2 linked regions of the Homo sapiens genome follow. The protein of the gene in region 2 interacts with the protein of the main gene of each other region in a biochemical or structural test. Each region holds a gene or a part of one and is shown on either strand. Other genes may lie near its edges.

Region 1 (6,919 bases), on a different chromosome or scaffold from region 2:
ATCCCGGCTGCATGGTTGGACAGCTCTGATGTGCCAAGCGCCCCTTCATATTGTCCTGGGTGTCTGCCCACTGCTCTCCAGGACCCTGGAACAAGCTCAGTCCCTCTTCCACACAAACACCTGCTGGGTGTTTGAAGGCAGTACCCCTGAAACAGACTGACCACAGCCTTCTACTGTTTACAAGTGCTATCACATTTGATTCTCTCAGCTCTTCTGTGGGGCAGATGTTGTTGTTGTTGTCTTTACTTTAGAGAAGGTGAAATAGGCTCAGAGAACAAGTGCCTTGTCCATGGTCACACAGAATTTTAGTGCATGTCCTTGTCAACCTTGTCTTCCCCTGCCATCTTCCCTTGAACCTTGTCTTCTTCAAGTGAAAGGAAGTTTAACCTCAATTCCTCTGACTGCCGTAAGGGTGCCCATGGCATTCTCCTCAATGGGCCAGGATGGAAAATCCAGGACGGATGATCCTGCCTCCTGGGCAGGGAGGGGCAGAAGCTGAAATGGAAACTCTTTCTTGGGAGAGAGTGAGTAGAGGGTGGGCCCTATCAGGCTATAGTAGCTGCCAGACATCTGGTAAGGTGAACTGAGGGTGCAGTATCTTATTCTGGGGGGCAGGGTGGGAGTGGGGGAGCTTTCTTGGCATAGGAAGGGCTGGGGAGTCCCCAGGAAGTGGCCACTCTGTATCAGTAGAGTCACTGGATACAGGCCTACAGCGGGAAGGCACAGGAAGCTGGTTCTGATAAGGTACTTGGAGTGGTACTTCGTATGGCTAGAAGATGCTTTCATGGTAGAGGTGTAGAAACTAAGGCCCAGAGAGGGGCAAGGGCTTTCCCAAAGGCACACAGCAGGTAGACACCACCCTGCTGCCACTCAGAGTTCCCACTGCGAGGGGGGCATGTGCCCAGGCTGAGTAGTGGAAAAGGGCACGTCCTCTCCTAGGTCCTCACTGGCTCACGCCAAGCTTCAGAGATGAGCCTTGTTTGAAGTCTTCTGGAGCCATTTATCATACTCAAGACACAGTGGCAGGGAACAGAGCCCATCTTGTGTAGGTCTCCAGTGCTGGAGGGTTACAGTGTCTCATCAGAGAGGGCAGAACCATCCCAAGGCCACACAGCTAAATTACGGTAAAGCCAGGACACTGTTCTCCAAGGTCTGGGTCTTTTCAGCCCCAGCAGAGCCTCCTAGAAGAACTAGTCTCTCTAACCAAGACTGAGAAGGGCAGGAAGAGGGTACAGGTAGTTGAGAGATCTGGGCTCTCTCGCTTCCCCCAACCCTTCCACCTGCCTCCCATCCCACAGACACCCAGGGACTCTGAGGATGAGCTGGGAATTTCTGATGTTCCTTCAAAATGGATCATCTCTATTTCCCACAGTGTAAGGTTCTGTGCTGTTCACTCTTCACCAGAAAAACTCCTGCCTATCCTGTAAAACCCAGCTCAGAGGTCCAGAAAATGACCCTGCACAAAGCCTCTGCAGAGGAAGTCACATCAAATTCTGAAGAATCTTCCAGACCATGATCTCTGACCACAATGCAATATAATTAGAACTCAACAAGAAAAACATAAACCTCCCATAGGCTGAGAAACTGAAAAACATACTTTGAAATCATTCAAGAGTTAAAGAGGAAATTACACTGAAATTTATGAACTATTTAGAACTGAATGATAAGGAAAACACAAGCAGTTTCCAAATCATTTCCCCTATGAAGTCAGCCCTGACCCCACATGGCTCCTCAGATGGCTCTCCACCCTCTACCCATTTCTACGCCCTAGGAGGCTGACGTCTATGGGCTGCAGCAACAGGTTCCCTTGTTCTTAGCTTCTGGGAGGATTCAGCTAGTGGGGGAAACCTGGCCAGAGATCAGACGGAGGGAGAGAGGGAGGAGAGTGAGGCCTCTTACTTGCCCCCTGTCCTTCCCTGTATGATTGCTGTGAGCTGGGTATGCCCCTCCACCTTAGGCCACAGCAGCGCCCTCCTCATAGCTCCCACTTTCACCATTCCTTCCCCACACTCCTGCAGCCTGGGGTTGACAGCCTCTGCTCTTGTGAGCCCTTTGGTGATACACTGTGTGGTTTCCCTACACCTTGACCATACCTGTAAATAATGTCTTCATTAAACATACCCATTCTGGGTGTTCCATGTGCTTCCTGCAAATACCCCGACTCTTACAAAGTCCGTCAGTCCACAACCACATTCTCACTTCTGGGTGACTGAGCTGTGACCTTGTGTATCTCTGTGTGTTGTCCCCTTTACTGACCTGTCAGCACCTGAGGTCGGCAACCAGGTCAGCTTTATCACCCAGTCCCCTGATCTGATATGAGTGGAGAGTTATACTCAATAAAAGATATTGATTAGGATATCAAATAAATAAAGAAGCATAGTTTAATTTGCTCCATAAGCAAGTGTTTGTTTATAGGGGATTCAGGGCAGAGAGTTAAGAGTCAGACATAAAAATACAGAGAACTTTAGACTGGGGCAAAAATTGGTGCTCAACAAAAGAACATACCCACAGTTCTATGAGCTGGGATTCTTTCTTTACTTTTATTTTAGGTTCAAGGGTACATGTGTAGGTTTGTTATATAAGTAAACTCTGTGTCATGGGGATTTGGTGTACAGATAATTTCATCACCGAGGTAAGCAGCATAGTACCTGATGGGTATTTTTGTCTCATCCTCCCTCCTCCCGCCCTCCACTCCCAAGCAGGCCCCAGTGTCTGCTGTTCCCCTCCTAGTATCTATGTATTCTCATTGTTTAGCTCCTACTTGTAAGTGAGAATATGCAGTATTTGGTTTTCTATTCCTGTGTTAGTCTGCTTAGGATAATGGCCTCCAGCTCCAGCCCATGTTGCTGCAAAGGATATGATCTGGGTTAAGGATCTAGCGTGTTCTCATGTCATCCAGCAACAGAAGGTCCAGACACAAGGGAGGTCCAGTGTGCCATGGTAAATGCCCACCTCTGGCCTCCAGCTCTCCCCTACCCGCATCTACTCACCTCCCACCCCTCCAGAGTGGCTTCTATGGCTAAGCTCTCTGCTTTGGGCTTCCTACCCTAGAAAGCCTCCAATCTTCCCTCCCATCCCAGACAGAGCAGCCAACTGGTCCCTGGGCCTGGGGGCCACGGTGTGCATTGAATGCTGGTGGGATATCTGTCTGTCCTCGAAGGAACCCAGGTGGTAGGGAGAGCAGATCAGATCTTGAGTGGTTTGGATTTGTCAGAAGGAAGGAGGGAGAGAAGGTATTCTAAAATGGAACAGCTGGGATAAGGGTCTGGAGATAAGAAATGGGGTGACTCTGGGTAAGGAGCAAGGAGAATCAGCCCAACCTGAGCCAGGCCCCCTCCCTGGTGAGGAGATGAAGTTTGTGATTTGAGCGCTCTTCTGGGGCTTGTCCCTCAGGGGTGAAGGACTCAGCTCATGATTCCCAAGGCGTTCATTTATTCCTTCACTCACCCATTCATTCATTCATCAAGTGGGTTTTGAGTTCCTGCTATGTGCCAGGAGCTGAGGATATGGGAGTGGATAGGACGGTCCCGATCCCTTATTGGGTCCCGGGACAAGTGTGACGCAGACGATTCTAGGAGGGCAAAGAAACCACCCTTATCTAGCAGCTCTTGTTTCTGCTCCAGAAGAAGCCGAGCGTTTTCCCATTTTACTGTCTGGGAACTTGAGGCTGCCTCCTTGGTGGAGGTCCAAGGAAGCACCGAGAGGGCGGGCAGCTCAGTTAGTCCTTTGTCCAAGGGGAAGCTGGGAGCCCCATATGGACTTTCCGGGAAGGTGGGGGCGAGTGCGTCTGTGTACTGGAGTGGAGGGGAGTCCCCTTTCTCCGCCCCTCCCCGCCCCGTGGCCGCGGCGTGGCGGGGCCGGGGCGGAGCTGGCGTCGCCCGGGGCAGGAGGGCAGCCGCGGCCGGCAGGACAGGCAGACGGACAGGCTGACAGGAGAGAGAACAGGCACTGCGGGACCTGCAGGAGAAAGGCGATCCTGTGGCTGGGAATGTGACCCCACGGCCAGAAGAGGACCCGTGAGTGTGCGCCGTGCCCCTGCGGCCTCGCCGCGCACCCCGCCCGCCTGGCTTCCACTTTCATTTCTTCGGCCGTCCTGGCGTGGCACAGTCCGGAGGAGAGTCCCGCCCGAAGGCAGGCTGGCCGCTGTCCTGAGGCTGGCGTCCGAGGCTCAGAGCTTCGAAAGTTGCGGGGGGGATTGTCGGGGTGGGGGAGTACGGGGCAGAGGGGAGGGGTTGGGGGGCGTGTTTTCGGGGAGCGGAAATGTCAGGCGGGCTCCTCTGGGTCCTACGACCTTCCTGGCCCTGGGAGCTGGTTTGAGGTTGCAGGGAAGCCGGGGGTGGGCGTGGGTGGCTGCGCGCCGCGAGGAGAGCGTGGAGTCTTCGCCTCTACTTTTTCTCTTCGACCTCTGTCCTAGAGAGAGTCCCAGGATGGATTCTGGGTTCAAACTGGGGCCATCCTCTGGCCCAGATCCTGGGCCAGGCCCAAGGAGTGGTAGATGTAGCCTAGCAGGGGGCTAAATATCAGAAACAGGTAGGGTCAGCCTGCTGTCTTCATTTGAGAAGCCCAGATCCGCACCCAGGGAACGAGCAAGGCACTGCCACTCCAGGAGTGAAAGGATAGCCATCACTGGGAAATGGGGGCTAGGACGGGGAACGGCAGTGGTTCAGGGAGAGACAGAGGTTCTGTGACAGATAGAAACTCAGTGAGGGCATGGGGGTGGGGAGTGAAGGGAGTTAACCCTGTGGCTAGAAGAGCACCTGCCCTGCACCCACCCCCTGAGCTTACATTTTCCTGGAAAGAGACCCAGGCCTTGAAGTTCCACAGGAGTAAGGTGGAACTCTAGCTCACTGGTCAGGACACCCCAGTTGCTGTGCGGAGTCAGTGTGTTGGGGACAGGAAGCAGGTTGGGCTGTTTGGTGGAGAAGATGCTTCCACTGTCCCTCCACTCCCCTCCTCTTCTCTGTCTCCACCAGACCATTGATGAGCCAGTGCAGGAAAATGGTCTTTTACTCTTGGTCATGAGCTGAGCCCCACCTTATCCCAGTTCCCAGTTCTGCTTGTAACTTGCTATGTGGACACAGGCTCCTCAAGTCCTCTTTTTAGGCCTCAGTTTCCTCATCTGGGCCTCAGTTTCCCCATCTGTACAAGTGAGTTGGGCCAGCTGATCTATCAGGGCTATTTTAACTCTAAGATTCTAGTCTAAGCTTTCCTTAAAGCCTGAACACTGACTTTGTGCCAGGCCTTGTCCTAAGCTGGGGGTGGGTTGGGGATGGAGTGGAGACTGCAATGACCAAAAGCAGCCTCTACCCAAGGAGAAGGAGATCTGAGTTCAGGAGAGGAGGCTGTGGGAGGAGGTAGCAGCCAATCTGAGGATGTGTGGTCAGGCAGGTGGAGGGATAAGAAAACATGCAGAGGCAAAAGAGTGGGGGCGTGTTCAGGAATCAGGAAGAAGCCCAGGGTGGTTGGTGTGGGGAGGTGGGAAGTGGGGCAGGAAAGGTAGGACAAGGTGCTGAATGCCAGGGTGGGGGCCTATTTCTAACTGTCATAAAGGGGGCCATGCAATGTGGGGAGCCCAGGAGCCCCGCCTAATTGCAGTGTGAGGGATTTTGGAAGCACTTGCCCCAAGCAGAGTTTAAAATGGAGATGGCAAATGAAGCGCAGAAATCTCTTTGCTCTGGAAACTGGGGTCCCACCCTGGGGACTTCTTTGGGTGAGAAGTCGAAGAGTCGGGATGGATGAGATGACCTTTCACATCTGTGAGTTTTTTTCAAGAGAACAAGTTCCTGCTGAATGGCCTGTTTCTACTCTCCAAGCTGCTCTCATTTTACCAGACTGCCCCCATCCTGGCCTGCCTTTGTGGGTTCAAGGAAGGACCTTTGTCTCAAACAGCTCCCCAGCTAGTTTGACTTCTTGCCAGAAGTAATACCCCTCCCCGAAATATGTGCCATCCCTTTGCTTTTACCCAGGTGTCACCTGGTTCCCACCCTCCCTTCCCCAATCCTGTCCCAGGGTTACCAGAGATGTGAGAAAGGACAGTGCTCCAGCGTCAGAGGTCAAGCCCAGGCTTTGGCCATAAGCAAGCCTCAGGGTAGGGCTAAAGGCTAGAGTCAGGGCTCACACTTGCCAGAGCCCAGGTCAGAGGTCAGCCAGGAACCAGAATGCAATTCTTAGCTTATACTCAGCCTTAGTGCTCAGTCTAGGGGCAGGGGCAGTGTGCTTAGTGGGTGGCTAAATTCTAGTTTTGGTAGGTACATGGGTCTGCATTTCCCAGTAGCTCACACACTCACAGTTGAGATGAGATGACTCAGGTCTTAGAAACCTAGCTATAGCAGAGTGACCCAGGACCTGGATGGGCTAAATCCATGGTGATACAGGGGTCACCCAGTAAGCCAGTGGTAGAGCTGGGACTAGAACCCAGGACTCCTGCCTCTGAGCCTAGGGCCCTGATCACTGTCTCCCAAAATTTGTTCTGAATCTGGGATCCTTAAATTCTAGGAGGCAAAGTAAATTTGCCTGAGCTCTAGATGGGCCCTCCTGGGTGCATCTGACTATACTCTTCTACCTCCCAGTGCCAGGCACATAGTAGTTGCTAGAGGAATGTCTACTGAGTGTCAGGTGCAACGGGAGGAGCCAGTGGCTTGTTCAGATTTGGGGCTGGAGGAGGCTGGCTTGAGGGGAAGGATCTCCAGCTGTTGTCAGAGGAAGCGACGCCCTCATTGGCCTGCCGCCCTCCCCCTCCTCCAGTGCTTGCAGCCACACTCAGAAGCCGCCCAGCTGGCAGCGGGAGGGCCCTTTCCTCTTTCAGGGTGAAAAAAAAGGAAAGGACATTTTTGGTAGAAAAGTTCCCTGCTGCTCCCTGGGAATCCCCGGTGGCCGGATGGACTACGGGATATCCCAGAGGAAGCCGAAAGCCACCCCC
Region 2 (7,025 bases):
TAATTAATAGGCTCATCATATCACCCCCAGGAATGTAGTCCATTACAAAGTATAAATTGTCCTTATCTTGGAATGAATAATATAGACGAACTACCCATTCATTGTCAGCTTCAGCCAGGATATCTCTCTCAGCCTTAACATGAGCGACTTGATTTCGAAGAAGAACATCTTTCTTTCGAAGAGTTTTTGTTGCATACAAAGCCTTAGTATCTACTTTTCTTGCTAGACAGACTTCACCAAATGCTCCTATTCCTAGTGTCTTTATCTTCACAAACATAGACTTGTCCATTTTAGCCCTTTTAAGACGGATGTAATTAGATTCTTTTTGGCAAAGCATCTTTCTCATTTGATCCTGGGCATCTTGAGATAATCCAACCTAGGCAAATAAACTAGATGTTAAATAAGAATTATCTTCTTCAATATTGAATATTAAGAAATAGCTTGGGAAAAATTCAGGCATATATTTAAAGGTTAAATGCATAATTTTTAATAAAGCATGTTAGAAATCTAGAAAACATTTCAAAGGAAATTAATGATCAAAAGTGCAGCCTAAGGGGTAGTTAAAAGGATATTCAAAGTGAGTACCTATGCAAATTCAGCTGTGGAGTGCAAGAAGAGGGTACCAGATGAGTAAGCTTTCTACTCTTCTCTAATGCACTCCGAAAAAAAAAAAAAAAAAGGTTCTCAATGTGCAACAAACATCTGTTAACATGTTAACATGCATATTCATTTATCTCTCTGTATATGCTTCTCTTGGTGGAATGCCTAGGCCTCAAATATTCTTCCTATTTTGTCTTTCATGAAAAAAAATTCTTCCACTCCAGGCTCATTTATTCTAAAAAATTAATGTACCAAAGAACAACAAAACAATGCCTTTTCTAACCCACCAATCCTTTCCCTATTCTCAATAAATATACAACAGTCATTAATAATCTTTCCTTTTCTATTTTTCAGGGCATCAGAGTAAAGGTGCGACTCACAGTCTACCACTAACACAAATTGCAAAGGGTTTCTCCTACTTCGAAAAGAACAACCTGGTTGTTTACAAGATATCCTTTGGATACTTAGGAATACTTCAGTGTGACTCATGAAAATATCAAAAAATAGATTAAAAACAAAAACTAACTTCTAAGTATTATAGATATGGAATGCCTGGATTTAGAAGGGAGAAACATTTTGGCTAATTAATAAAGAATTAATTAAAGGGTTTAAATAGAAAAGAAATCCAGTTGGAAAAGTGGGGTCTAATTCTAGAAATACAAGACTAAAATAGAACAACCACATGCTTCTGTTAGGATTCACATTTGCATGCAAAATCTTTTAAGAAGGATGGCATGCCAGACTTAGTTCAGAACTGTTTCTCTTAAAATCTTACTTGCCTACACAGTAATGGAGACTACAGAAGTCAGCAAAGCTTCCAACACCATAAAAGTTTAAATCAGCTATTAGTGAAAGTGAAGAGGAAAAAGGAAAAATAAACTAAGAAAATACACATAGGCAGACTTTAGTAAGAAATCCTAAGAATTAAAATATGGATAAGTCATAGAAATTATTATGGTATTTCTCATTTAATAAAATATAAAATAGAAATAACAATACTGTAAAATCAGATTTATTAAAATCATTTTAAAAGAATGGTTCAAGTATATAAAGGTGTTTAATCACAAGGTTAAGCCTCTTGGATTGTGAGTGACAGATGTAAGATTAGGAGTCAAATCTTTGAACTCTAAGCATATGATAAAAACAATAATGGCCAGGCACAGTGGCTCATGCCTGTAATCCCAGTGCTTTGGGAGGCAGACGCGGGTGGGTCATGGCGTCAAGAGATCAAGACCGGCCTGGCCAACATGGTGAAACCCCGCCTCTACTAAAAATAAAAAATTAGCTCAGCGTGCTGACGGGCGCTTGTAGTCCCAGCTAGTGGGGAGGCTGAGGCAGGAGAACTGCTTGAACCCGGGAGGCGGAGGTTGCAGTGAGCTGAGATGGCGCCACTGCACTCCAGCCTGGCGACAGAGTGAGATGTCGTCTCAAAAAAAAAAAAAAATGATGATCGTACTACCTTAATATCTAGAGATCTATGTGGAATGACAACACAGATTAAAGTGTGTTTACTTACTCTGATCTCCCTTTTAGTATAGTTTCACTAAATAATTTTAGCACATTTTTCTCCAGTATATTATAAAAATGAAATGAGAAGGGAGATATAACTGAAGGAAACTTCTTTACACTTTTTAATAAGATATATGTGATGAATAAACCTATAAACTCCAAATTTTCTAAAAGTAAATGTTTTATAAGTATATCAAGAGATGAGACCCACGTATTTCTTTTTTCTTTTTTTTTTTTTTTTGAGACGGAGTCTCACTGTCGCCCACACTGGAGTGCAGTGGCGCGATCTCGGCTCACTGCAACCTCCGCCTCCGGGGTTCACGCCATTCTCCTGCCTCAGCCTTCCAAGTAGCTGGGACTACAGGCGCCCGCCACCATGCCCAGCTAATTTTTTTTGGTATTTTTAGTAGAGACGGGGTTTCACTGTGTTAGGCAGGATGGTCTCGATCTCCTGACCTCATGATCTGCCTGCCTCAGCCTTCCAAAGTGCTTTGATTACAGGCGTGAGCCCCCATGCCCCAGCCTGAGACCCACATATTTCTAGTTTATTTTTAAATGTTGTAAGATATTGTATGAAGCCTAGAAGACAACCCTTCCTCCAATTTTCATATAAAGGTATTATGTACACCTAAACTGTATACCGCAAATTATATTTTTCTTAATTTACACGAGATTTTATTATAGGAAATTCTGAATAAATATTGAAATACTAAAATAAAATGCTACAATCAAAAGTACTTTAATATTTATTCACTTTTAAATTCCATAACTGATAATATATTTTATTTAGCTATAAAAAGAAAGAAAAATACTGGACACAATATTTTAAAATAAACACCAAGCAAACAGATGATTAAGTATAAAAATGGACATTTTAAAAGGTTTTACCCGCATCATTTCATTCTCTAATTGTTTTTTACGATGTAGACGCTGCTGATGAGATTTGAGTACATTTTCTACATGTTGCTCCATAAAGAATTTAAATGCTTGAGGAGAATAACTTTGAATACGAGATTCCCTTCGCTCTTCATCTTTCTTGTTTTTCCTAACAGTAATAGGTGAAGTTGTAATCTGTTTCTTTTCTTTATCCCCACTATCAACATTTTCATAACTCTTTTCACTCTCATCTTCCTTGGGCAAGCTTGGCTGATCCTCTTTGCTAGGCTTACTGATTGACTCGTATGGAGGAACAGATGGGTTTTGGTGCAGCAGATGTTTTGGGTAGGGTGGTGGTGGTCCTTGATAGTTTGGAGCTTCAGCAACAGGTGGCATCACAGTCACATTTGAAGCGGTTCCCTCAGGAAAAGGACTGGGTTGAACAGTTTGAATTGGCTGTGGTATCCAAGAAGGGTGTGTAGGTGCTAAAGCAGTCTGTAGCTCTGGTTTTAATACACGCATACTTTTCACAGGCTGTTGAATAGGAGCTGGTGTAATTGCAGTGACTGTTGTAGCAGAAGGCTGAGAATTAGCAGAGTGACTTGCTCTATTTCCTAATGGGTTATTAAAAGAATTTGACCTCACTGGTATGTTAGGTTGCCATGTAGGGATTTCATGCCCACTGCTCGGGGATGACTGGGCTGGAGCAGAAGATGACTGAGGCCAATTTGTTTGCAGTCCAGGTACACTAATGTTATATAGTTCCATGTTATGACTATTTCTGTTTGGCACCATCATAGACTGAGGAATACTTCCATTTGTATATGACGAAGGAGCAGCAGATCCCCCTGTTTGTAAAGCAGAAGGGCTTTGTCCATTAGCTGCTGTCAGAGGATATGGAGGTGGTGGCTGCCGATTCACAGTGCCAGCAGGGACAACATTTTGGTGTATCATGAAATCAGTTTGTCCAGTACCATTCTGCATTCCAGGTCTCCCTGATGGAAAGTTAAATTTGCTAGAACTCTGCATGATGATTGGTTGTCTGCCAACAGGAACAGAACTAATGCCTCTCTGTCCTTGATTAGGAGGATTCATGGGGGAAGTGTTGAGAGGTGGTGGAGGATAGCCCTCTTGCCATGCCCCAGGTGGGACAGGAGAGATTCGGGAGATTACGTATTCCATGTTTCCAGAATAGCGCTTTGTTTGAGAGTTTGGTTCCCATGAAGGGGGAGGTGGAGTTGTACCTCTTGGAGGGGGAGTCTGGCCTCTTGGAGGTGGTGGAGGAGTAACACTCCTTACTTGAGGTGGTGGTGGGGGGTTCACTCTCTGTCCGTTGCTAGGGTGAGCTTGAACAAATGCTGATATACCAGATCCAGACAAAGGTCTTCCTACATCTGTCTGTGAGTTGGGACTCTCAGAATGATAGGCCACACTTTCTCCTAGTGGCGGGCCATGCCTCTGAGGAACTAAGGATTCTTTAGAACCTTTCCAGCTCTGTTTGCGGTTAACTGATTGCTGCACATTCCCTATGGTTATAAGAGAGATAAAGAGAAAAAAGAATCATGTTTTTAACCTCTAATTTTTGAAAACCTTAGCTTGCAATTCTGATATTACAAATGATACTCAATTCTCTTTCAAGAATTATAAAAATATAAAAAAGTTCAAGTGATCTCTTGTACAAAATGGTGACTGTAGTTAATAACAACGTATTGTACTCCTGAAAATTGCCGAGAGTAAATTTGAAGTATTCTCACTACAAAAAAATGATATGTGAGGTAATAATACATGTTATTTGGCTCAATTTAGCAAAAAAAGAAAAAAAAGAGTTATAAAAATAAAATTTCACTAAGTGGTTTCCTTTTACCTTTTAGAATTTTATTTATTTTTGACCAGGCGTGGTGGCTCACGCCTGTAATCCCAGCACTTTGGGAGGCTGAGGTAGGCAGATCACTTGAGGCCAGGAGTTCGAGACCAGCCTGGCCAACATGGTGAAACTCCATTTCTACTAAAAATACAAAAAAATTAGCCAGGCGTGGTGGTGTGCACCTGTAGTCCCAGCCACTCGGGAGGCTGAGGCAGGAGAATTGCATGAACCAAGAAGGCCAACGCTGCAGTGAACTGAGATCGTGCCACTGCACTCCAGCCTGGGTGACAGTGCAAGACTCCATCTCAAAAAAAATATATATATATTTTTGAAGAGATATAATTTCATATATATGCATGTATATTTGTAGATAAATTATTAGAGGTAGCATTATTAGGCCAAAGGGCGTATCTATTTGTAATTTTCATAGCTCTACTGATTTTAAATATATTTTAATATATATCTATATTTTTAAATTGAGACAAAGTCTCACTCTGTCACCCAGGCTGGAGTGCAGTGGCACAGACTCACTGCAACCTCCGTCTCCCGGGTTCAAGTAATTCTCCTTCCTCAGCCTCCTGAGTAGCTGGGACTACAGGCGCACGCCACCACGCCCAGCTAACTTTTGTATTTTTAGTAGAGACGGGGTTTCGCCATGTTAGCGAGGCTGGTCTTAAACTCCCGACCTCAAGTGATCTGCCCTCCTAAGCCTTCCAAAGTGCTGGGATTACAGGTGTGAGCCACTGCACCTGGCCTTTTAATATGGTTTTTAAAACAGAAAAAGATAGTAGGCTATAATTAGCTGAATATTAAATAAAGTATAGATTTTACAGAAACTGTCTTTAACGGAATTTCCAAATCAATAAAACAAGCAAAAAAAAAAATACAATACCAAAAAAAGAGAAGTATTTAAAATAGAATAGTCCAGCCACTTAGGAAAAATATACAAGATACACTGGTATAAAGACAATACATATATACATTCTAGAAAGACTAAAGGTTTAAATATTAAAGATGAAATCATGTAAGCACTAGAAAAAAACAAAAGACCATTCAATAGTATTGGGGTACCTCTTGCGAATGTCTTCCCAGGCATGACAAAAGTAGAGATCTAAATACAAACACTCATTACCATTAAAAACAAAACAAAAAAGAATACTAATAAATTTGAAAGGTCAACATCATCCTGGGCAAAAATATATCTAACAATACATCTGAGAAAAAAAGTGGTAAAATGTGGTAAATGTTCATAATGTTCAGTTTAACACTCCCTTTCATCTAGGCTGGACAGCATTTTGGGTCTACATTCTCGAAGCAGGAGCCAGACGAAAAGCAAGTGAGTAAATAATGTTTGGGGAACATTATCATTCCGGATAAACTGGACAAGTCCTCTGGCCATCAGGCTCTTTCTCACTTTCCTCAGAGGCCAGCTGAGGCCAAATACACCATGTCACTCATTCAGCTTTTAGAGTATACAGTCACCCCTGTTGTTCTGCGCCTCCCACAGAGCTCTCCATGTTCTTCCACTTCCCGAACCTTTCCACCATGCCCTCCGGATCCACTCGGCTCCACAGCCAGCAAATGTGCCTTATCAGTAACCTCTCCTCCAAGCTTTCCTGCCACCTCCTTGAAGCTGGTTTTCTTCTGCTGATACTACTTTCCTTTCAGCCCTTTGAAATTAAGGTTTCCTTTAAAAATAACCTGGCCTAAAGATGGGGTTCTAACATTTGTTCTTACAGGTTGATATTATTCCTTTTAAAAAGCCAGCTCTTTTGAACTTCATGCTATGTGGGAGGCCACACTAATTCCTCTCACCTAATGAGCTCCTGCCTATTTGCTCTATTTCATTCAGCCACAGCTTCAGCATTCAGTCTACCCTAAGCCCTGCCTTCATCCTGTAACCTCAATAACCACGAGGATAAACCATCTATTGCCCTCATATCTCAGCTTCTTGACGTCCCCTCTTCCACTCCACATCAAGTATCATTCTCATGATTGTATTTCAAACTTTGGTATTACTCATATCTGCTCTTGTTTCAGAATAACTACTTTAAGGTTTATACGCTTATACTCCCAGACCACAACTACTTCTTCTGTTTACTCCTACTGCAAAAGTTTTTAAACTTTATTAAGTAGCAACCTCACCAAGATCTCCAAGATTTTTATTTTTTTTTTT

Evidence for each region. The genes of interacting proteins can lie anywhere in the genome.
Region 1: the proteins of LATS1 (region 2) and MOB3C form a complex in vitro, tested with the Homo sapiens proteins (one study listed by BioGRID).

Annotation. Positions count from the first base shown.
Region 1 is NC_000001.11:46,613,808-46,620,726, reverse strand, and holds the start of MOB3C (MOB kinase activator 3C), read left to right. Parts: upstream 1-3,915; 5' UTR 3,916-4,016; intron 4,017-5,593; exon of another isoform or gene 5,594-5,756; intron 5,757-6,919. UniProt on the Homo sapiens protein: May regulate the activity of kinases.
Region 2 is NC_000006.12:149,680,082-149,687,106, forward strand, and holds part of LATS1 (serine/threonine-protein kinase LATS1), read right to left. Parts: intron 4,512-7,025; coding exon 2,998-4,511; coding exon of another isoform or gene 2,935-2,997; exon of another isoform or gene 2,833-2,934; intron 1,443-2,832; exon of another isoform or gene 1,380-1,442; intron 377-1,379; coding exon 1-376. UniProt on the Homo sapiens protein: Negative regulator of YAP1 in the Hippo signaling pathway that plays a pivotal role in organ size control and tumor suppression by restricting proliferation and promoting apoptosis.